Linked DNA regions of Homo sapiens: all the other regions are reported to be linked to region 3. The links are microRNA targets in miRTarBase. Many come from high-throughput screens and were not tested one by one. Region 3 holds a microRNA gene; each other region holds the end of a gene's coding sequence.
Evidence for each region. The annotated mature microRNA hsa-miR-6819-3p reads AAGCCUCUGUCCCCACCCCAG and lies in region 3 at 1,664-1,684, shown strand. An mRNA with a match to its seed (bases 2 to 7 or 8) in the 3' UTR can be bound and repressed. Matches are read on the target gene's strand: a 7mer-m8 pairs with bases 2 to 8, a 7mer-A1 pairs with bases 2 to 7 and ends in A, and an 8mer does both.

Region 1: miRTarBase lists TSPAN31 as a target of hsa-miR-6819-3p. Seed matches in the 3' UTR shown: 7mer-m8 at 1,752-1,758 and 8mer at 1,713-1,720.
Region 2: the mRNA of ZNF682 is a reported target of hsa-miR-6819-3p. Seed matches in the 3' UTR shown: 7mer-m8 at 1,565-1,571.
Region 4: miRTarBase lists PKHD1 as a target of hsa-miR-6819-3p. The part of its 3' UTR that is shown has no 7-base or 8-base seed match.

The regions. Positions count from the first base shown.
Region 1 is chr12:57,746,658-57,751,805 of GRCh38, reverse strand. It overlaps TSPAN31 (tetraspanin 31), which reads right to left. Exons shown (of 6, transcript NM_005981.5): 4 at 5,086-5,148; 5 at 4,675-4,788; 6 at 1,587-4,590. The coding sequence ends at 4,516. CDK4 (cyclin dependent kinase 4) reads left to right here. Exons shown (of 8, transcript NM_000075.4): 2 at 70-306; 3 at 464-599; 4 at 716-883; 5 at 1,041-1,150; 6 at 2,302-2,352; 7 at 2,489-2,624; 8 at 3,189-4,079. The coding sequence starts at 89. The coding sequence ends at 3,281. MIR6759 (microRNA 6759) reads left to right here and starts at 3,124; the gene lies at 3,124-3,188. RefSeq lists a silencer at 207-346.
Region 2 is chr19:20,001,615-20,006,762 of GRCh38, reverse strand. ZNF682 (zinc finger protein 682) reads left to right here. Exons shown (of 4, transcript NM_033196.3): 4 at 1-2,345. The coding sequence ends at 758. It also overlaps the pseudogene BNIP3P12. Among named protein-coding and RNA genes, the nearest start is that of ZNF682, 35 kb to the left of the region's middle.
Region 3 is chr22:36,283,383-36,288,530 of GRCh38, reverse strand. MIR6819 (microRNA 6819) reads left to right here and starts at 1,624; the gene lies at 1,624-1,684. It overlaps MYH9 (myosin heavy chain 9), which reads left to right. Exons shown (of 41, transcript NM_002473.6): 34 at 118-279; 35 at 1,685-1,813; 36 at 2,578-2,666; 37 at 2,750-2,873; 38 at 3,202-3,410; 39 at 4,020-4,128; 40 at 4,266-4,438. RefSeq lists an enhancer at 1,623-2,135.
Region 4 is chr6:51,614,935-51,620,082 of GRCh38, reverse strand. It overlaps PKHD1 (PKHD1 ciliary IPT domain containing fibrocystin/polyductin), which reads left to right. Exons shown (of 67, transcript NM_138694.4): 67 at 563-4,784. The coding sequence ends at 1,002. Among named protein-coding and RNA genes, the nearest start is that of PKHD1, 470 kb to the left of the region's middle.

The DNA.
Region 1 (5,148 bases), not on the chromosome of region 3:
TTGTTGCTGCAGGCTCATACCATCCTAACTCTGTAAGCGACTTTTGGTGATAGGAGTCTGTGATTGTAGGGTCTCCCTTGATCTGAGAATGGCTACCTCTCGATATGAGCCAGTGGCTGAAATTGGTGTCGGTGCCTATGGGACAGTGTACAAGGCCCGTGATCCCCACAGTGGCCACTTTGTGGCCCTCAAGAGTGTGAGAGTCCCCAATGGAGGAGGAGGTGGAGGAGGCCTTCCCATCAGCACAGTTCGTGAGGTGGCTTTACTGAGGCGACTGGAGGCTTTTGAGCATCCCAATGTTGTCCGGTGAGAAGGTGGTGGAGGGTTGGGCGTGGGGAGTAAAGGGAAAAGACAGCCTATAGGTGGGGTGTGATGATCTGTAGAGAAGTGGGGACCCTGAGGAAATAATGAGAGGCCATGTTGGGTTAAAGGGGATTGAAAAGTGAGCATTTACTCTGGTCAGGCTGATGGACGTCTGTGCCACATCCCGAACTGACCGGGAGATCAAGGTAACCCTGGTGTTTGAGCATGTAGACCAGGACCTAAGGACATATCTGGACAAGGCACCCCCACCAGGCTTGCCAGCCGAAACGATCAAGGTGAGTGGGGTTGGTAGGCATTGAGAGGTGGATTGGGACCTTTGTAGTAGAACCTTCTGGGATTTCAGGTATGGTGCCTAGTTTCCAGTGCATCTGTACCTCCCCTTTGAAACTAGGATCTGATGCGCCAGTTTCTAAGAGGCCTAGATTTCCTTCATGCCAATTGCATCGTTCACCGAGATCTGAAGCCAGAGAACATTCTGGTGACAAGTGGTGGAACAGTCAAGCTGGCTGACTTTGGCCTGGCCAGAATCTACAGCTACCAGATGGCACTTACACCCGTGGTCAGTAGAAAGATGGTACCAAAATGGGTTCTGGTTGGGAGTAGGAGAGTGATTGCCCGTAGCAATTGAGAAGTCATGTGCTTCATGTGTTCAGTCAAGCAAGTTGTGTTTCATGGTAACCCATGGGGTCCCCATCCATTCTTCCTATTCCCTTTAGGTTGTTACACTCTGGTACCGAGCTCCCGAAGTTCTTCTGCAGTCCACATATGCAACACCTGTGGACATGTGGAGTGTTGGCTGTATCTTTGCAGAGATGTTTCGTCGAAAGTATGGGACCCACATACCCTGGACTACCTTGAATTCCCCAAATCGCTTGTTCATAAACCACATCCATACCTTGCCCATTCTTTTTTTTTGAGACCAGGGCTTGCTGTGTTGCCCAGGCTGGATTGCAATGGCATGATCACAGCTCACTGCAGCTTCAACCTCCTGGGCTCAAGTGATCCTCCCATCTCAGCTTCCCAACTAGCTGACACTACAGGCACGCACCTCCATGCTTGGCTAGTTTGTTAATATTTTTATAGAGATGGGGTCTCAGTATATTGCCCAGGCTGGTCTTGAACTCTTGCACTCAAGCAATCCTCCCACCCCTACCTCCCAAAGTAGCATAAGCTACTGCATCTGGCCCCATTCTTTTACTTGCGTACTACTAACTTGCCCATAGCAGAAAGCTCTGAAATGTTCTGGAATTAGGAACTTCATATCCCTTTATTCTCTTTATTTTTTATTTATTTATTTATTTATTTATTTATTTATTTATTTATTTATTGAGATAAGGTTTCACTCTGTCACCCAGGCTGGAGTGCAGTGGCCCAATTACAGCTCACTGTAGCCTCTACCTCCTGGGCTAAAGCAATCCTCCCATCTCAGCCTCTTGAGTAGCTGAGACTACAGGTGCACGCCACCATGACTGGCTTTTTTTTTTTTTAGATGGAGTCTTGCTCTGTCGCCAGGCTGGAGTGCAGTAGTGCGATCTCTGCTCACTGCAACCTCCACCTCCCAGATTCAAGCAATTCTCTTGACTCAGCCTCCCAAGTAGCTGGGACCACAGGTGCACGCCACCATGCTCAGCTAATTTTTGTACTTTTAGTAATGACAGGGTTTCACCATGTTGGCCAGGATGGTCTCGATCTCTTGACCTCATGATCCACCCACATCAGACTCCCAAAGTGCTAGGATTACAGGCGTGAGCCGCTGCACCTGGCATTTCTTTTTTTTTAAAAAAAGAGACAAGGTCTTGCTTGCCCAGGCTGATCTAGAACTCCTGGGCTCAAGCAGTCCTCTCACCTCAGCATCCCAAAGTGCTGGAATTGTTGGCCTTTATTCCCTATACTTCCTATTTTGAGCCACTAAGCAGTAACCATTCAACTAAGATATCTTTGAAAATGACTGCTACCTTATATCCCTTCTCACCTTAGGCCTCTCTTCTGTGGAAACTCTGAAGCCGACCAGTTGGGCAAAATCTTTGAGTAAGTGACCAACATGGGAGAAAAAGATTTTCTATTCTGAGTCCTCTTTCTGCTGAACCCAGGATGGCAACTGGCTCTGCCCATGGGGATGGGAACTGGAGGACCCTCCTGACCAGAGTTCTCCTGTCCCCCACAGCCTGATTGGGCTGCCTCCAGAGGATGACTGGCCTCGAGATGTATCCCTGCCCCGTGGAGCCTTTCCCCCCAGAGGGCCCCGCCCAGTGCAGTCGGTGGTACCTGAGATGGAGGAGTCGGGAGCACAGCTGCTGCTGGTACTGGAGATGGCTGTGGGCACAGGGAAAGAAATAGAGACTGGGGAAAGAAATAGAGCAGTATGCAGGGCCCTGGCCACTGTGGTTAATGAAACTTGGTTGGTAGATGGGCTGTAGTTTTTATTACAGCTGCAAATAGCCACCCACAGAGAAGGATATAGAAGAGAACCCATCCTGGCTGGGCACGGTGGCTCACGCCTGTAATCCCAGCACTTTGGGAGGCCAAGGTGGGCGTATCACCTGAGGTCAGGAGTTCGAGACCAGCCTGGCCAACATGGTGAAACCTCGTCTCTACTAAAAGTACAAAAATAAGCCGGGGGTGGTGGCACACGCCTGTAATCTCAGCTACTTGGGAGGCTGAGATAGGAGAATCACTTCAACTCAGGAGGCGGAGGTTGCAGTGAGCTGAGATCATACCATTGCACTCCAGCCTGGGTGATAGAGCGAGACTCCGTCTCAAAAAAAAAAAAAAAGAAAAAAGAAGAAAGCTCATCCCAGGTATTGTTGTGGGTGGGCAGAAGTCTGTTTTCTTCATGGTTTTCTGACCTTTGCCTCTCCCCTCAGGAAATGCTGACTTTTAACCCACACAAGCGAATCTCTGCCTTTCGAGCTCTGCAGCACTCTTATCTACATAAGGATGAAGGTAATCCGGAGTGAGCAATGGAGTGGCTGCCATGGAAGGAAGAAAAGCTGCCATTTCCCTTCTGGACACTGAGAGGGCAATCTTTGCCTTTATCTCTGAGGCTATGGAGGGTCCTCCTCCATCTTTCTACAGAGATTACTTTGCTGCCTTAATGACATTCCCCTCCCACCTCTCCTTTTGAGGCTTCTCCTTCTCCTTCCCATTTCTCTACACTAAGGGGTATGTTCCCTCTTGTCCCTTTCCCTACCTTTATATTTGGGGTCCTTTTTTATACAGGAAAAACAAAACAAAGAAATAATGGTCTTTTTTTTTTTTTTAATGTTTCTTCCTCTGTTTGGCTTTGCCATTGTGCGATTTGGAAAAACCACTTGGAAGAAGGGACTTTCCTGCAAAACCTTAAAGACTGGTTAAATTACAGGGCCTAGGAAGTCAGTGGAGCCCCTTGACTGACAAAGCTTAGAAAGGAACTGAAATTGCTTCTTTGAATATGGATTTTAGGCGGGGCGTGGTGGCTCACGCCTATAATCCCAGCACGTTGGGAGGCCAACGCGGGTGGATCACCTGAGGTCAGGAGTTCGAGACCAGCCTGACTAACATGGTGAAACCCTGTCTCTACTAAAAATACAAAATTAGTCAGGCGTGGTGGTGCACACCTGTAATCCCAGCTACTTGGGAGACTGAGGCAGGAGGATCGCTTGAACCCGGGAGGCAGAGGTTGCGGTGAGCCGAGATCATGCCATTGCACTCCAGCCTGGGCAACAGAGCAAGACTCTGTGTCAAAAAAAAAAAAAGAATATAGATTTTTAAATGGCTTTTACTTTTATATTCGCTAAACTTTCTCAAACTGGATCCTGCTTATTACAGGAAAGAGTTCTTGGTTGTTTTCTCCTTGGCCCTATCCCTGATTTACCCTTAGAGCCACACCAGGGTATGTTGAGGTGATCCAGTATATGGACAGAGGAAGGGAAACAGCTAAGAATGACTCCAGCCCCCATCCTATGCACTCACAGAAGCTTCCCATATCCTCTTGGAGAGAGAGGAAGAAAGTTTTTCCTTTTATTCCTTATAGTCTGGCTCCCACTAAAATATGTCAAGGCATAAAGTCTTGCTATTCCATCAATTTTAGAGGATGTGACAAGGGGCCTTTCCTTTTTCTCAAACCAAAACGGTTACAGACCCTAGATATTCCCTAAGGGAGGAAGAGAAAGCTTAGAGAGAGCAGAAGAAAAGTCAGAAGGATCCAAAGTCTCATAGAAAGGCACTGGGGTTGGCTCTAGGATCCTTCTGATTCCGAAATCTCATTGCTAGCCAAACACCAAGGATCTGTAGGAACAAAGGGAGAGAGATAAGTATCAATTAATTCTCAGTCTCAAAAAGGATGTGTGTGAGGGAACTGGAGAATGTTACCTCTGTAAAGCTAAAGAAGAGTCCAACACCCCCTAGGATTTTCAGGGCTTCGTCTGAATGCTTAAGAAACTTTTCTCCACACATCTGGCATGTGGGGCTCTGGCTCTTGCAGATCTGAGGATAAAACGTGAAGAATGCAAAGTTGTGAATGTAAAGTTGCTAGTGACTAATACCTATGCCGAATGTCCCTAGAAACTTTACTGTTATCTGACCAGTGTCCTACAAACTAAAATCCTACTTGGCTAATTCCCCAGCCTCTATCCACCCCCACCTCCCACCAACACAGCCCCAATACAAGAGGGCTTGTAGAGAGAGAAACAATGACATTCAAACTAAATTTGCCAACTTGGGCATTGTCCTTACCCAGTTTCCTACCTCCCCTGGCTGCTGCACCACCCCCAACACACTCACTGCAGTGCAGAAATCATAATCTTGTTGATACAGGGTTGTGAGGTTGAATAAGCCACAACAATC
Region 2 (5,148 bases), not on the chromosome of region 3:
ATAAGAGAATCCATACTGGTGAGAAACCCTACAAATGTGAAGAATGTGGAAAAGCCTTTCACTGGTGTTCACCCTTTGTTAGACATAAGAAAATTCATACAGGAGAAAAACCCTATACATGTGAAGACTGTGGCAGAGCGTTTAACCGGCACTCACATCTCACCAAACATAAGACAATTCACACTGGAAAGAAACCCTACAAATGTAAAGAATGTGGGAAAGCCTTTAACCACTGCTCACTACTTACTATACATGAGAGAACCCATACGGGAGAGAAACCCTATAAATGTGAAGAATGTGGCAAAGCTTTTAACTCATCATCAATTCTTACTGAACATAAGGTAATTCATAGCGGAGAGAAACCCTACAAATGTGAAAAATGTGACAAAGTCTTTAAGAGGTTCTCATACCTTACTAAACACAAGAGAATTCACACTGGAGAGAAACCCTACAAATGTGAAGAATGTGGCAAAGCTTTTAACTGGTCCTCAATCCTTACTGAACATAAGAGAATTCATACTGGAGAGAAACCCTACAACTGTGAAGAATGTGGAAAAGCCTTTAATCGGTGCTCACACCTTACTAGACATAAGAAAATTCATACTGCCGTCAAACGCTATAAATGTGAAGAATGTGGCAAAGCTTTTAAACGGTGCTCACATCTTAATGAACATAAGAGAGTTCAAAGAGGAGAGAAATCCTGCAAGTATAAAAAATGTGGGGAAGCTTTTAATCACTGCTCAAACCTTACTACGTAAGAATTTTTACTAAAGAGAAATCCTACAAATGTAAAGAATGTGGCAAATTCCATAAATCTTGCTCAAGGCATTGAAATCACAAGATAATTCATACTGGAGAGAAACACTACAAATGTGAAGAATGTGGGGAAAGTCTTCAACCATTGCTGACAGCTTATTGCACAGAAGAAAATTCATGCTGAGAAAAATTCTGATTTTAAAGAATGTGGCAAAGCATTTAATAACTACTATGAACTTACTCATCAGAGGTTTTGTGCTAGATAAAAGCAATGTAAGTGTAATGATACACATTACATTTATCTGTGGAAAGATGTCACCAAATAAAAGCCTTAGAGTACACAAGGTGTAATGATAGTGATACATTACATTTGTACATGGAAAGACTTCAAAAATATAAGCCTTAGAGTACACAAGAGTTTTTATACTGAAGAAAAACATTACAAATATAAAGATTGTTGCAATACTTTTACTTATGTTACAGATTTTGTTGTACATAGGAGAATTTATACTGAAAGGTAACCCTCTAACAGTTGCTCAAATTTTATTCCATTTTAGATAATTTACATTGGAAAGAAACCCTACAACTGTAATGAATATGAAAAAAATTGTTTAAAAAGTACACCTTAGAAAACACTAGTTTAAGGCCGGGCGCGGTGGCTCACACTTATAATCCCAGCACTTTGGGAGGCCGAGGCAGGCGGATCACGAGGTCAGGAGATCGAGACCACGATGAAACCCTGTCTCTACTAAAAATACAAAAAATTAGCTGGGCATGTTGTCGGGTGCCTGTAGTCCCAGCTACTGGGAGAGGCTGAGGCAGGAGAATGGCGTGAACCCGAGAGGCGGAGCTTGCAGTGAGCCGAGATCGCGCCACTGAACTCCAACCTGGGCGACAGAGACTCTGTCTCAAAAAAAAAGAAAGAACGCTAGTTTATATGAAAGCATTTAACAGATGCAGTAAATATAAAAAATTAATAAAAAATTAAGTCTAAATGAACATCAGAAGATTCACAGTAGAAACCACTAAGACGCTAACACTTTCAATGTTATTCTAAATCAGGGCATTGATTATAAAGAGTAATTCAAGGTTAACATAATTTAGTTAGCCTAAACAGAAATAGGAGATTAATATTTTGAGACTTAAACAATTATATTCAAAGTACACTTTTTGCATTGAAAGAATTTTAGATTTTTACAAAGGCAAATTTTGATGTAATTGAACTCTCAAATTACTTGATGCTGTGTCTTTATTCCTAGTGTCTGTATGAAAGCATGTGGTCAATTTCTGCTGCTCGGGGTTTGAGAAGTTCTATATTAGGATGTCATTTACATACTTTTCAACAGAAGATTGAGGACACTGAAATATGAGGTGTGTGAAGAAAGTACACAGAGAAACTTTTGTGGTTGACTTATAAAACTTGTAAGTGCTGCATGAGATAGATGTTCAGAGTAATAGTCTTGTGCATTATTCAAATTTTAGTAAATTGTTTTACCAATTGCACATTAGATAGTATAGTGGATTTTGTAATGCTTTTCTTAGACTGTGTGAACTTAGTTTCAATAAAACAATTATTTTTAATGTGTTAAGACAGTTGTGCATTGAATTAGGTGTTATCCTGCCACCAACATTAACCTATTTTACCTTACTCAAGTCTCTAGGTAACAGACGGTAACAACATACTATTCAGTAATATAGTGGAATGGCATCTCTAGTGATTCTTATCCTTAGTGACTTTAAACTTCAAATACGTTGGAGAATATTGTTTCCATAGGTTACATTTTTATTATTTTTCTTCTAATTATAGAGTCATTAAGATGATTATTATGAAAATTACACAGGCATATAATCAAAAGCCATATATTTCTGAATCTTAAGTGAGTATGTAGAAGATGTTATCTCACATTTTTCTTTGAACATGCAACCTCTGTGGCCTTCCAGACACACATAGACTCTTTAAGTTTTCACTTACATGAAAGTTTAATATACAAATATGTTACTCTAAAGATAAAGTGTAAGGGAATTATGAAGCAAGTAATTGTATTTGAATGTGGATGTGTACCTATTTTGAGAAGAAAGAAAATATGTTAGAACAAACTGGTAATTTTTAAAGTGTTGATAAGTTACTACCAAACTGGAAACCTCAAACAATTTCAAAGCAAATCTATTTTTCCCATTTGTATTGAATTCATTTTTTCAAAATCTTGTGGTTCCTAGTTCAGAATCTCCTTAAGTAAATCTAGGTTTTACTTGCCTGGTATTGATAGTAGACCTAATGCATAATTTTCTTTTTTTTTTTTTTGAGACGGAGTCTTGCTCTGTCACCCAGGCTGGAGTGCAGTGGTGCAATCTCTGCTCACTGCAAGCTCCACCTCCCAGGTTCACGCCATTCTCCTGCCTCAGCCTCCCCAGTAGCTGGGACTACAGGTGCCCACCACCACGCCCAGCTAATTTTTTTGTATTTTTAGTAGAGACGGGGTTTCACCATGTTAGCCTGGATGGTCTCGATCTCCTGACCTTGTGATCCACCCGCCTCAGCCTCCCAAAGTGCTAGGATTACAGGCATGAGCCACCATGCCCGGCCAGTTTTCTTGTTCCAAAGTTTATAAAGTATTCTTTATATAATCTGCTCGGGAATTATTGGAATAATTTTTACAAAATTTAATGGTGCTTGCAAAATAATTTGAACATGTAATTTCATAGTAAATATGTTGTAACATTTTATTTAGTACATTTTTTTTCAATTGGAGAACTCTAAGCCAATCTTTCCTTTGTTGCTCTTTTAATTTTTTTTTTTTTTTTTTTTTTTTTTTTTTGAGACGGAGTCTTGCTCTGTCGCCCACGCTGGAGTGCAGTGGTGCGATCTCGGCTCACTGCAAGCTCCGCCTCCCGGGTGCACGCCATTCTCCTGCCTCAGCCTCCCGAGTAGCTGGGACTACAGGCGCCCACCACCACGCCCGGCTCATTCTTTTGTATTTTTAGTAGAGACGGGGTTTCACCGTGTTAGCCAGGATGGTCTCCATTTCCTGACCTCGTGATCCGCCCGCCTCAGCCTCCCAAAGTGCTGGGATTACAGGCGTGAGCCATTGCGCCTGGCCTTGTTGTTCTTTTAATTTTTATAATTAACATTGAGTTTATTGATCTTATTGGGTTAATTTCTTTAGGTGAACACTAGGGAGATGTCATCAGTCATGGTAGTGTTTGTTTCTTTTTTTATCAACTCTTACGTCTCTACATCAGACATGGTGTTGTTTAGTCATAAATGAAGTGAACAAACACAGAAAAGCACTACCATGTGTAATACACACTCCATAATTAGTGTTCCAATTGGAGTGAGTTGGTGGCTCCAGGAGATTAAAATTGCCGTGAGGACATCACCATTTAATATTCAGTGGACATCCTGTTAATATTTACTGTGTTTAACTCTTCAGATAGAATTGAGGCCCTGTGATTATCTGCTTTCTTCATTGAATTATGCCAAGCAGCTACAAAAGGGACTGCGCAAGTTAAGTGCTTAATATACGTGTATTTAGTGAATGGAGCCTAACCACAGCCTTCCAAAATATCTAAGTGGGCCTGAGGCCCGTCTTTCAGCACCCAGGGACCTCTGTTATGTCTGTGTGAAGGACAAAGATCGGCTAAAAGAATTGCCTTGGGAGTCCAAGGCGGGCGGATCATGAGGTCAGGAGATCAAGACCATCCTGGTCAACATGGTGAAACCCTGTCTCTACTAAAATACAAAAAAAAAAAAAAAAAATTAGCCAGGGGTGGTGGCACACGCCTGTAGTCCCAGCTACTCGGGAGGTTGAGGCAGGGGAATCGCTTGAACCTGGGAGGCAGAAGTTGCAGTGAGCCAAGATCACACCACTGCACTCCAGCCTGGGCAACAGAGACTCCACCTTAAAAAATAAAAAAGAAATAATAACTATAATAACTCTTCTGTTCATAAGTGGCCCTTCAGATGGTGACATTAGAGTTCCCAACATAAGGAAAGTGGCCTAAATCCCCTGCACACCTCCCTTTTTTGTACTGACCCCATGATGTAAAATTCTGCCATTTATTCATTTGCCACAGACAAACTTCCTTTACAAAGGCAAAAAGAGCATTGCTTCAGATTGTGAATGTATTTGGACACAGGGTCATTAAAGAGGTAATTAAGCTTGTGAGTTCATTGGCATGGGACCTAATTAAATATAATGGGTTCTTATAAGAAGAGGTAGTAAAGACAGAAGCACAAGAGAAGATTCTGTTAACACAGAGTTAGAAGACAGCCATCTACAAGCCAAGGAGAGAGGCTTGGAGAAGTCATTCCACCAACATCTGTTAGATTTCTAATTTCCAGAACTGTAAGAAACTAAATTGCTGTTTTTAAGGCCCTTCATTCTGTGATGC
Region 3 (5,148 bases):
TGGTTTCCCGAGGCCCCATGGATCCTGCAGAACTGGCCTGAGGCTCCTGAGTTCAGAGCTAGGGCAGGGTCTCCCAGTGGGTCCAGCTTCCCAAGTTGTTGATGTTCCTTCCCCCAGGTGCGGGAGATGGAGGCAGAGCTGGAGGACGAGAGGAAGCAGCGCTCGATGGCAGTGGCCGCCCGGAAGAAGCTGGAGATGGACCTGAAGGACCTGGAGGCGCACATCGACTCGGCCAACAAGAACCGGGACGAAGCCATCAAACAGCTGCGGAAGCTGCAGGTAAGGGTGGGCGGGGCCCAGGTGAGGGTGGGCGGCACCCGACTGAGCCAACTACATATGAAGGTGCCAGGGCTCGGCCCAGGGCGGGAACCTGGCAGGGTGGCACCTCCTGGGAAGGTCCTGGGTGCTTCCAGCCCCATCTCACTGACAGAGACTCAGAGGCTCAGAGGTGAGTGGAAACATGATAGTCCAACAGCAAACTTGCAAAACGGTGTATGACTGGGTACATAAAACACAGAAGCAAACAAGTACAAGCCTAGACATGGGTGGAGTTCAAGAAGGTCTCACTTAATGCAGACTTCCAGAATCACCCGGGTCCTGACACCCTTCAGCCTTCTGGGCTCTGGGGCGATGGTTCCAAGAAGCAGCCCGGAGTGTGGGACACATACTTGGAAATCTTCACCTCACTAATAATTAAAGAATAATTAACACGTAAAAACAGCTCTGATACGCCATATCATGTAACAAGAATAACCTTAGTTTAACAAATTTTTTTTTGTTTGTTTGTTTGAGACGGAGTCTCGCTCTGTCGCTCAGGCTGGAGTGCAGTGGCATGATCTCGGCTTGCTGCAAGCTCCGCCTCCCGGGTTCACGCCATTCTCCTGCCTCAGCCTCCCCAGCAGCTGGGACTACAGGCGCACGCCGCCACGCCCGGCTAATTTTTGTATTTTTAGTAGAGACGGGGTTTCACCATGTTAGCCAGGATGGTCTCAATCTCCTGACCTTGTGATCCACCCGCCTCGGCCTCCCAAAGTGCTGGGATTACAAGCATGAGCCACTGCGCCCGGCCAAAAAAAAAATGTTAAGTGTAAAAAAAAAACCCACAAAAACTTTAAAACTTCATTGTGGTCAAGGTTGTGGGCATAGATGCTCTGATTGCTGGTGGCATTTTTTTACTGGTGTGGTCGGGCTGCACACAGCCAGTCACTCTCTTTGATTTGGGGAATCTCAATTTCGGATTTATCTGCAAAAGGAAAAAAAGGCTATTTGACAAAGGTCTTTAGTGTTAAAAGAAGTAACAGGAGAATAACAAAAGGAAAGGTGTTTCCTGCCTGTGGTGGGGATGGACCGGCAGGCTGGGCACTGGTTTTGAGTGGCAGGTGCGCATTAGGGGTGGCACCATGGGCACTGGCTTCCGGCCCACAGGAGGGGACAGAAAGTAGAAAATGAAGCTCAGCTTGGGCTCACGTCCACGGTGACGAACACTGTCAAAGTGTGCATTACGGGGTGGGATACACAGATGATTGTCTTTAGTTGCCTTTTTGCCCTGTCACCACGGTTAGTTGGTTAAATACAGCATTGAGTGGAGCACCAGCCATGAGCCCTGTTGGCGAGGTGACCCATGAGGGTTGGGGTGGAGGGCCAAGGAGCTGGGTGGGGTGCCAAGCCTCTGTCCCCACCCCAGGCCCAGATGAAGGACTGCATGCGCGAGCTGGATGACACCCGCGCCTCTCGTGAGGAGATCCTGGCCCAGGCCAAAGAGAACGAGAAGAAGCTGAAGAGCATGGAGGCCGAGATGATCCAGTTGCAGGAGGTGGGTGGGGCTGCAATGGAGAGCGGCACCGCTGCCCTGCGGCCAGCAGGTGGCAGCGTGGGGCTTTCAGCTGAGGACAGGGCTGGAGTCCTACTGGGCTCCAGGAATTGGCTGGGGATGGCTCTCAGGTTACATAAGGATTCCCTCCAGGGTTCCGTTTCATAGCGGGGCTCCCTCGTATGATCAGAGTGTGTGTGTGTGTGAAACTGGCATCCCTCACATGAGATGAGGCTTTGTGGCCACCACCACCTCCTGCTGTGAATGCTGCCTGGTGAGAAGGGGTCTGAGCGTCCCCTCGGCCGCCCTGCCCGTCGCACCTGAGCCCGTCCTGAAGTGTTTCCCAGGTCTGGAGGGTGCCCTGCAGCGTGATGTGCCGGCTGCGAGTGCGTCCAGGGTGTAGCCATCTGCCTGTGGCCTCCAGAGCTGACTCCAAGCTCTGGCTTACCCAGAACAGGGAGGGGCCGCCCTGAGTGACTCTGTCCACGTGGTCTCCCTGGTTAGGCCAGGACACTTCTTACTTATCGCCATACCCTGGCACCTGGCTTGATTCCTAGCACTTAAATGTAAGAGTTTTATAAACATATGGTGTTTAAGCTATATCTTCAGGGGGGCACCAGCCCTGTGAGCTAGAGGGTTTCTGGAGGAAGGGCTTCGTGGGGAGGTGGGCCTGGGGAAGGGCTTGAGGGGAGGGTGCCTGGGGCTGGGAAGGATGGTCTTGTGGGGCTGTGGCTGCCTTTAGGTCACACTCTGGGTCTTTGTGGCAGGAACTGGCAGCCGCGGAGCGTGCCAAGCGCCAGGCCCAGCAGGAGCGGGATGAGCTGGCTGACGAGATCGCCAACAGCAGCGGCAAAGGGTGAGCTGAGTGAGGGGGCAGAGTTGGGGGGGACCAGGTGTGTCCCCAGGGTAGGCCCCTCACTTCTCCCGCCCACCCCGCAGAGCCCTGGCGTTAGAGGAGAAGCGGCGTCTGGAGGCCCGCATCGCCCAGCTGGAGGAGGAGCTGGAGGAGGAGCAGGGCAACACGGAGCTGATCAACGACCGGCTGAAGAAGGCCAACCTGCAGGTGGGTGCCAGGACTTCTCCCACTCTGGGCTCTGGCTGGAGCCACCACGGCAGAGCTGGCCTTGGACCCAGCCGGCAGAAGCACAGGCCAAGTGCCAGCTGCTCCCCAGGCGCTTAGGGGAAAATGTCCAGGCACCTGGACCTGAAAGGTCCCCCTCTGGCTTCTGTGTTGGGTGTTCAGAAGTTTCTAATCTTCCCTTTTCTGGGAGACCCAAGACTCTGGACCCCAAGGGTTTGGTGGGATCCTGCTGCCACCTTCCTCTGGCCCTGCTCATGCCCTCCAGCCAGGGCCCCAGCCCTCCCCAAGGTCACTGGCCCTTCTTCTGCAGATCGACCAGATCAACACCGACCTGAACCTGGAGCGCAGCCACGCCCAGAAGAACGAGAATGCTCGGCAGCAGCTGGAACGCCAGAACAAGGAGCTTAAGGTCAAGCTGCAGGAGATGGAGGGCACTGTCAAGTCCAAGTACAAGGCCTCCATCACCGCCCTCGAGGCCAAGATTGCACAGCTGGAGGAGCAGCTGGACAACGAGACCAAGTACGTGCCCCTGGCCCCGCCCAACCCCAGCTGTCCTGGAAAAAACTCTGGCCCCCCTGCAGTCCTGCCCAAATCTGGGCCACAACCAGCTCTCTGTCTCCTGAGCCTGGGGCTGTTTCCCTCCCTCCTGATGGGGCCCTCATCCCTTCCACAGGTTGGGTGGTTGGGGGAGCTTGTGGGGTTTGAACAGGATTCTCTGTTCCACCTCTAAAGCCAGGAGTTTTGGTGGCTGTGTCTGAGAGTGAATCAGAGCAGGAGGTACAGGGGGGTCCTGCCCACTAGGACAGTTGTCCTATGGGCTCAGCAGGACTGAGACTTCCTTGGAGGGAATGGGGTTTACAGTAGGCCCCCAGACCTCTTTTCCAGTTACATAGATGCTCTTTGAGGTGTGTCGCTTCCCTTACCTGAGCCCATTTCCTCATCTGTAAATGGGGCTATTTGCAGTGCCCGTCGTAAGAAGCCGGGTACACATAGGTGTCTAGCAAAGGCCTCCCTACGTGATCCCTAGATGCCAGTGAGCCCCGGGGAATGGGTGGTCCTGGTTAGGGCTTGTTGGCCGGACCCTCTGAAGGAGGGTGTTCCCTCTGAGCCACCTTGTCTGTCATGCAGGGAGCGCCAGGCAGCCTGCAAACAGGTGCGTCGGACCGAGAAGAAGCTGAAGGATGTGCTGCTGCAGGTGGATGACGAGCGGAGGAACGCCGAGCAGTACAAGGACCAGGTGTGGGCGCTGGTGGGGCAGTGAGAAGGGCAGCGGGGCTGGGCAGCAGATGGGGTGACAGGCAGGGCAGTGGGGCTGACTGGCTGCACGCCCAGAGCCCCTAACCGGGGCCACGGGCCACACGTCCATCTCCGCAGGCCGACAAGGCATCTACCCGCCTGAAGCAGCTCAAGCGGCAGCTGGAGGAGGCCGAAGAGGAGGCCCAGCGGGCCAACGCCTCCCGCCGGAAACTGCAGCGCGAGCTGGAGGACGCCACTGAGACGGCCGATGCCATGAACCGCGAAGTCAGCTCCCTAAAGAACAAGCTCAGGTGAGCCGCCCTGCCCACCCGCCCCTTTGCCTCGGCACTTCTCTCAAAAGGTAGCTTGTTCCTCAACCAGAGCCCACAAGCAAGGCACGAATGTCACCAAGAAAGGACTGCACAAAGCAATCCCTGCCCCTTCTGGCTCCTTGCCTTTGAGGCTTTAGCTTAGTGTTTTGAACACACAGTAAACTCTAGGTAGTTTATTCCCAGCTGTCCTAAAAGTCTATTGTCTTTTGAATTGGAAGTTGCTTGAGGCCACCTGGCCCAGTCCTGGCACATGTTAGGTGCCTCAGTTAAATATCTGCAAAACGAATGTGAGCCTCATGAGCAATGCCTACAGAGGTTAAAAACGCTCCTTTGCGTTTCTCAGGGAGTGTTAACACTCAAGAAGTAGTGAATGTTTGAAGCAGAGGATCTTATTCTCTGAGATTCTCATTTCTTACGTGTTTTTTTGTGGGTTTTTTGAGACTCTCATTTTGTGTTTTTTGAGATACTCATTTCTTACATGTTTTTTTCTTATGTGTTTACGTGTTTTTTTTATTTTTTTTGTTTTTTTTTTTTGAGACGGAGTTTCGCTCTTGTTGCCCAGACTGGAGTGCAATGGTGTAATCTCGGCTTGCTGCAACCTCTGCCTCCCGGGTTCAAGCGATTCTCCTCCCTCAGCCCCTGGAGTAGCTGGGATTACAGGCATGCACCACTATGCCCGGCTAATTTTT
Region 4 (5,148 bases), not on the chromosome of region 3:
GACTTGAGTGTAATGTGCCATCTCTCTTTCTACTGTTATGCAACCATACATGTACACACTCATATACATAGATGTTTATGTGATTATTTCTGCAAATATTTATATTCATGTTTTTATAATACCAAAGATATTTACATTGTGAACTTGGTATAAGAGCCTAAGTATTAGATAGGACTGGTTTTTATAGTTCATATCTCTTAACACAGGTGTGAGTTGGCCTGTTGGTAAGTTGGCCTGTTGGTAAGTTGGCCTGTTGGTAAGTGTGAGTTGGCCAGTTGGTAAGGCCTGACCATGGTCTGGTTTTTGCATTGAAGCCTAGCGCTTACAATGAAAAATCCTCATTCAATTATCAACATCATGTAAGTATTTTTTGAGGAAGAAGTATTACCAATTTTTTATTACATATTTGGAGTGTCTGATAAAAGATATTTGGAAATCAAAGAGCTGATGTAATTCAATCTTTGATTTGACAATATCTTGTCAGAAATGCTAAGTATGCAAAATGTGTAATTAACTGGTTGAAAACTAAATCCATTTCTTCCCCTATTTCTTTTCCCCCCAGATATGAGAATGAAGGTCATGCTGGGCAAGGTGAACCAGTGCCCCCACCAGTTGATGAATGGAGTGTCCAGAAGGAAAGTTAGCCGCCACATTGTCCGAGAGGAAGAGGCTGCTGTGCCTGCTCCTGGTACTACTGGCATCACATCCCATGGGCACATCTGTGCTCCAGGTGCTCCTGCTCAGCAGGTGTACCTGCAAGAGACTGGGAACTGGAAGGAGGGCCAAGAGCAGTTGCTCAGATACCAGCTGGCAGGCCAAAATCAGCTGCTGCTGCTATGCCCAGACTTCAGACAAGAGAGGCAGCAGTTGCCAGGGCAAAGTCGGCTGAGTAAGCAAAGTGGCAGCTTGGGGCTTTCCCAAGAGAAGAAAGCCTCCTGCGGGGCCACTGAGGCATTCTGCCTTCATTCAGTACACCCGGAAACTATTCAGGAGCAACTGTGATCAGGGAAGTTGGGGGCATTTGGCCTGAAAGGCAGAATGTTCCCAGTATTTCTGGATAATAAGCTGGGGAAGTGAGGACTGTCCTGCTGGGACAACTAAGAAGAGAGAATGTGGACTCTGAATCCCTTTTTCAACTTTAAAATGGAAAACAGTCATATAAATGCTTACAGACTGAAAAATGTCTCATACATATTTTGCAGCTATCATGATCCTAGTTCAATGCTAGGCAAATAATGGCACTTGTTAATTATTTACCAGTTTTTAACTTAAGCCTGATTTTAACAACTTGATAATGGTGTAATACTGACTTATACCAGCAGGGGTTATTATTAAGCATTCTCTGGATTGACCACCCACAATGCTTTGAGCTTCTTTTATAGAAGGGATCATGAAAAGGTCTGGTCAGCTACAGTTTAATTCCACACTGTTACAGAAAAGCATTTCTTTATCCTGTAGTAGCATTTGAAGGGACAGTTCAACACCCTGCTCCCTGATCTGTCAGAGCTTACCTTCCAACCACAAGGCAACTTCCTGGCTTTTTACAAGTGGATTTTATTTCATGGTTTAAATTCAATCATTATTGAGAACCTACAGTAGTGTGAGCGTATCAAATTTGCACTTCATGAGGATTTACACATGAAAATTGATATTCTCATGGGCTTTGCTGAGAGTTTAGTTAAGGACAAAGATGTAAAAATGCCAAATTTGGGAAAGGAAATTTTGTATGACCACTGTTCTATTTTTCAGTGATTCTCTCTGTTAGTAGCTGGGTCACATTTACAACTGGAAAAGAACTACATTGGGAGATCAGAGAAAGCCAAGTGGCCAAGTCCTTTATCAAAAAGCTGCTTTTTGGAGAAGATGATGCATAAAGCTGTGATACTAAGGAGAGGAGAGATTATGTCATATGCAACTGCTCTAGGCTGTGCAGGGGGTTTAAATGGAGATCAGAACAAAGGCTCACCTGGTATTGATACATTTGGTAAGGTTGTTAAAGGCAATTTCACCAAATTCACACATTTGTACGGGGCCCATTTCTTTTCAAACTGAAGAATACTTTAAACAGCCTGACTGTGTCCTTGGCTCTGGATCCAGAAGGCCTTATGCTCCAAGCATGTAAAGAAAAGATCGCAGGAATGTGGAGAGCTTCCAAAAAGAGATTGCTCTCAGATTTTCCTGAAAATCCTGAAAACCAGGATTTTCCAATCTCTACAATGTTAAGGGGTTGTTGTGTAGTTGCATTGGAAGAGAGAAAGGAAACACACTCTTTCATTGCTGAATTCTAAATAATGATGCCCTGAATTAGTTCTATGAGAAGTACTGGCAGACAGCTGTTATGTCTGCAGGGCATCAAGGGGCAGGTGTGTCTCACCCTACTAAGAATTGGCAGAAATGTTTTAACCTCTTCTTTAGGCATCTGGTGAGTATTGCAGATCTTCAGGCTGTCCCTAAAAGGAGGTAGGTAGCCTTCTCTGTGGTCACTGTGTTGGATTTGGAAGAAAATATAAGTAGATGTTAAGGTCAGTGCTCTCCAGGAGATTTCAATCCAGGCTATCTGTGTTCAGGGAATGATTTGCAAGAAGTTGGTTTATAGACGTTTACTCTGGAGGCACAAGCTGGCTGCCATGCTGAGTAAGTCCTCTTTGTAGATGATGTATTTTGCTTGGGCACCAACAGAATTAAAAACGAAAAACAAAAAAAAACTCGAATGACTTAGGCAGAACATGCCTTCCCTAGTTTAATTAGTCCCTGTTATAACCAGTTATTTATCTTTTTTTGTAGATTCTCGGTCTTGAAGTCATTTGCCTTTGCAATCTCTACTTTAGTATACTCATTGGATCCTCAAAGAGCCGTAAGCTTTTTGGAAAAAAACATTTCAGAAGTGAAGGCTTTTGAGGTTTATAAAATGGTAGCAGTCTTAGTCCTTGCCCTGCCTCAGTTTACCTGCACATGCTTTCTTTCATTTCCTCGGATTCTTTCACCACTTTTTAAGTTTTTTTTCCACAGGTATTTTTCCTGAGCTCTATACCATGCATTTAGCTGCCTAGTGAGAATATCCAGTAGGTTATCCTATAGTTACTATGAAGTTAACACAGCCCAAAAACCTACTTCTCCTTGTGTTTTTTTCCAACTCAATGAATGACATCACTGCACTCAGACCAGAAATCTAGAAGTCAGTCATGACTCTTCATTCTATTTCGCCCTTCACAAAGAGTTAGCTGCCAGCTCTGTTATTTCTGCCCCTTCTTTACCCTTCTTCCAATTTTTATTATCTTCTTATTTATCCTCTATGTGTCACAAGACCAGTCTTTCTGGGAGGCATGTTTTATCCTATCCCTCTGCGTAGGAATAACCATAATTATCTTACTAATTCCATCCCAGAAAAGCCTGTGATCCCTGAGGCCAGAATTGACTCTTTGGGCCTAAATAGCAGCTATAAACATCTTCAGTAACTTGCCAGGCTCTAGCATGTGGCATGGAATTTTGGCATCTAGCTAAAATTCCTCAACCCATAGTTAAGCTACTCCTCTTTCTCCTAAAAAAAAAAAAAAATGAGAGAATTAGGGAAACACCAAAAGCAAAGAGAGCAGCTCTATGTTCATTCATGTCTGGAGATGAGCCAATTTGAGCACCACTGTAGGCCAACTCTAAATTTATTCAGATCGTTAACATGGGTAACCCAGCAAATATTTCCCAGCAGTGACAATCTACACCCTTTATCTAAATAAATATTGAGATGTGCTTTTTTCCTGTGTTAGTTCAAAGAATCTCTTCTTGCCTCCCATTGCTGATTTTCTGTATTGATGGACTCATTTCTCTCAAGAGATTGGACAAGCTAAAATTCTAGAGAGTTCAAAAGTGTTTGAAAGTACATTTTAAGTGTTCTCACCACAAAAAATGCTAGTGTGTGAGGTGATACATATGTTAATTAGTTCAACTGATCCATTCCACAATGTATACATATTTCAAACTATCGAGTTGTACATGATAAATATATACAATTTTTATTTGTCAAATAAAGAACATCTATAAATATTTATAGATTTCAAAATTGAGAAAGAAGTATATATGGAGCCACGGTTGTTTTGACCATTTCTCCATGCTTTTTGTTTGGGGAGGGGGACATTTTTTGGGGGGCAGGGACTGTGTTCAGGGAAAGTACCTGACCAACAGAACTTCAAGTCTCTTCCAGAGTGCGAGACTCAGCTTATCTGATCAAGGTGAACTTGCCCTTCAATAGACTTGCCCTTGTTACTGCCCAGTGAGGCCACCAAGGACCAAGAACAGTTGAGCTCTCTCAGGGCCTTCCCCTTTCAACAATTTAGTTGAATGACTCCCTTCCATCTATCAGTCTTACTCCAAATATATGAAATTACTATACATTGAAATGCCTGCAAACTATATGCAAAAATGAGTATGAGGAAATCAAATGTAAATCATATGCAAATATTATTCAACCAAGCTTCTATAAAATTGTACGTGTCAATAACAGTAAAGAATTTTAATTAATTCTGTCATTTAAAATTCATGCATTCCATATTTTGCTTTCAGAACTTATAGTCTATGCCAATTTTGAAAAAACTATAAGCACAAGGAATTAAATACTATTGAGTATAGAACTGTTGATTTCAACATACACTATAGCACTTTGACTAATTACAGATATATTTGATAGAAAAGTCACATTTCTACAAGGTAATTTTCAAAAAGAAATAAAACATTTCTGTAAACTTAAATGTGGATTAAGTGGCAGAATACAGAGATTTGAATGTTTACAAATATTCTTCTAGCATTTGTTCTTTTTATTTGGTGATTTCTTTGCTCGGAACAATTTAGAACATTTATTTAATGCATTTTTAGGACTTTCTAGATTTTAAGGGATTCAAATAATTAATTGTCCATACATTATCTCTTATCAGTCCCAAGATAATCTTATTTATTATCACTTTACATTTTATTTCAAAATTAGTAGCTATAACAAGGTGAAGGAAATACCTACTCTTCTCTCCATTTTATAAATAAAAAAGTCAGTTGCCATAACTTTGTTAGGGTCCAAGGCAAATTACAAAAATTGTTTGGACTATATTTTTTCCTTCTAACATTTCCTCAAGTTAATGGTATGTCATTTAGTAGAATGACTCATGT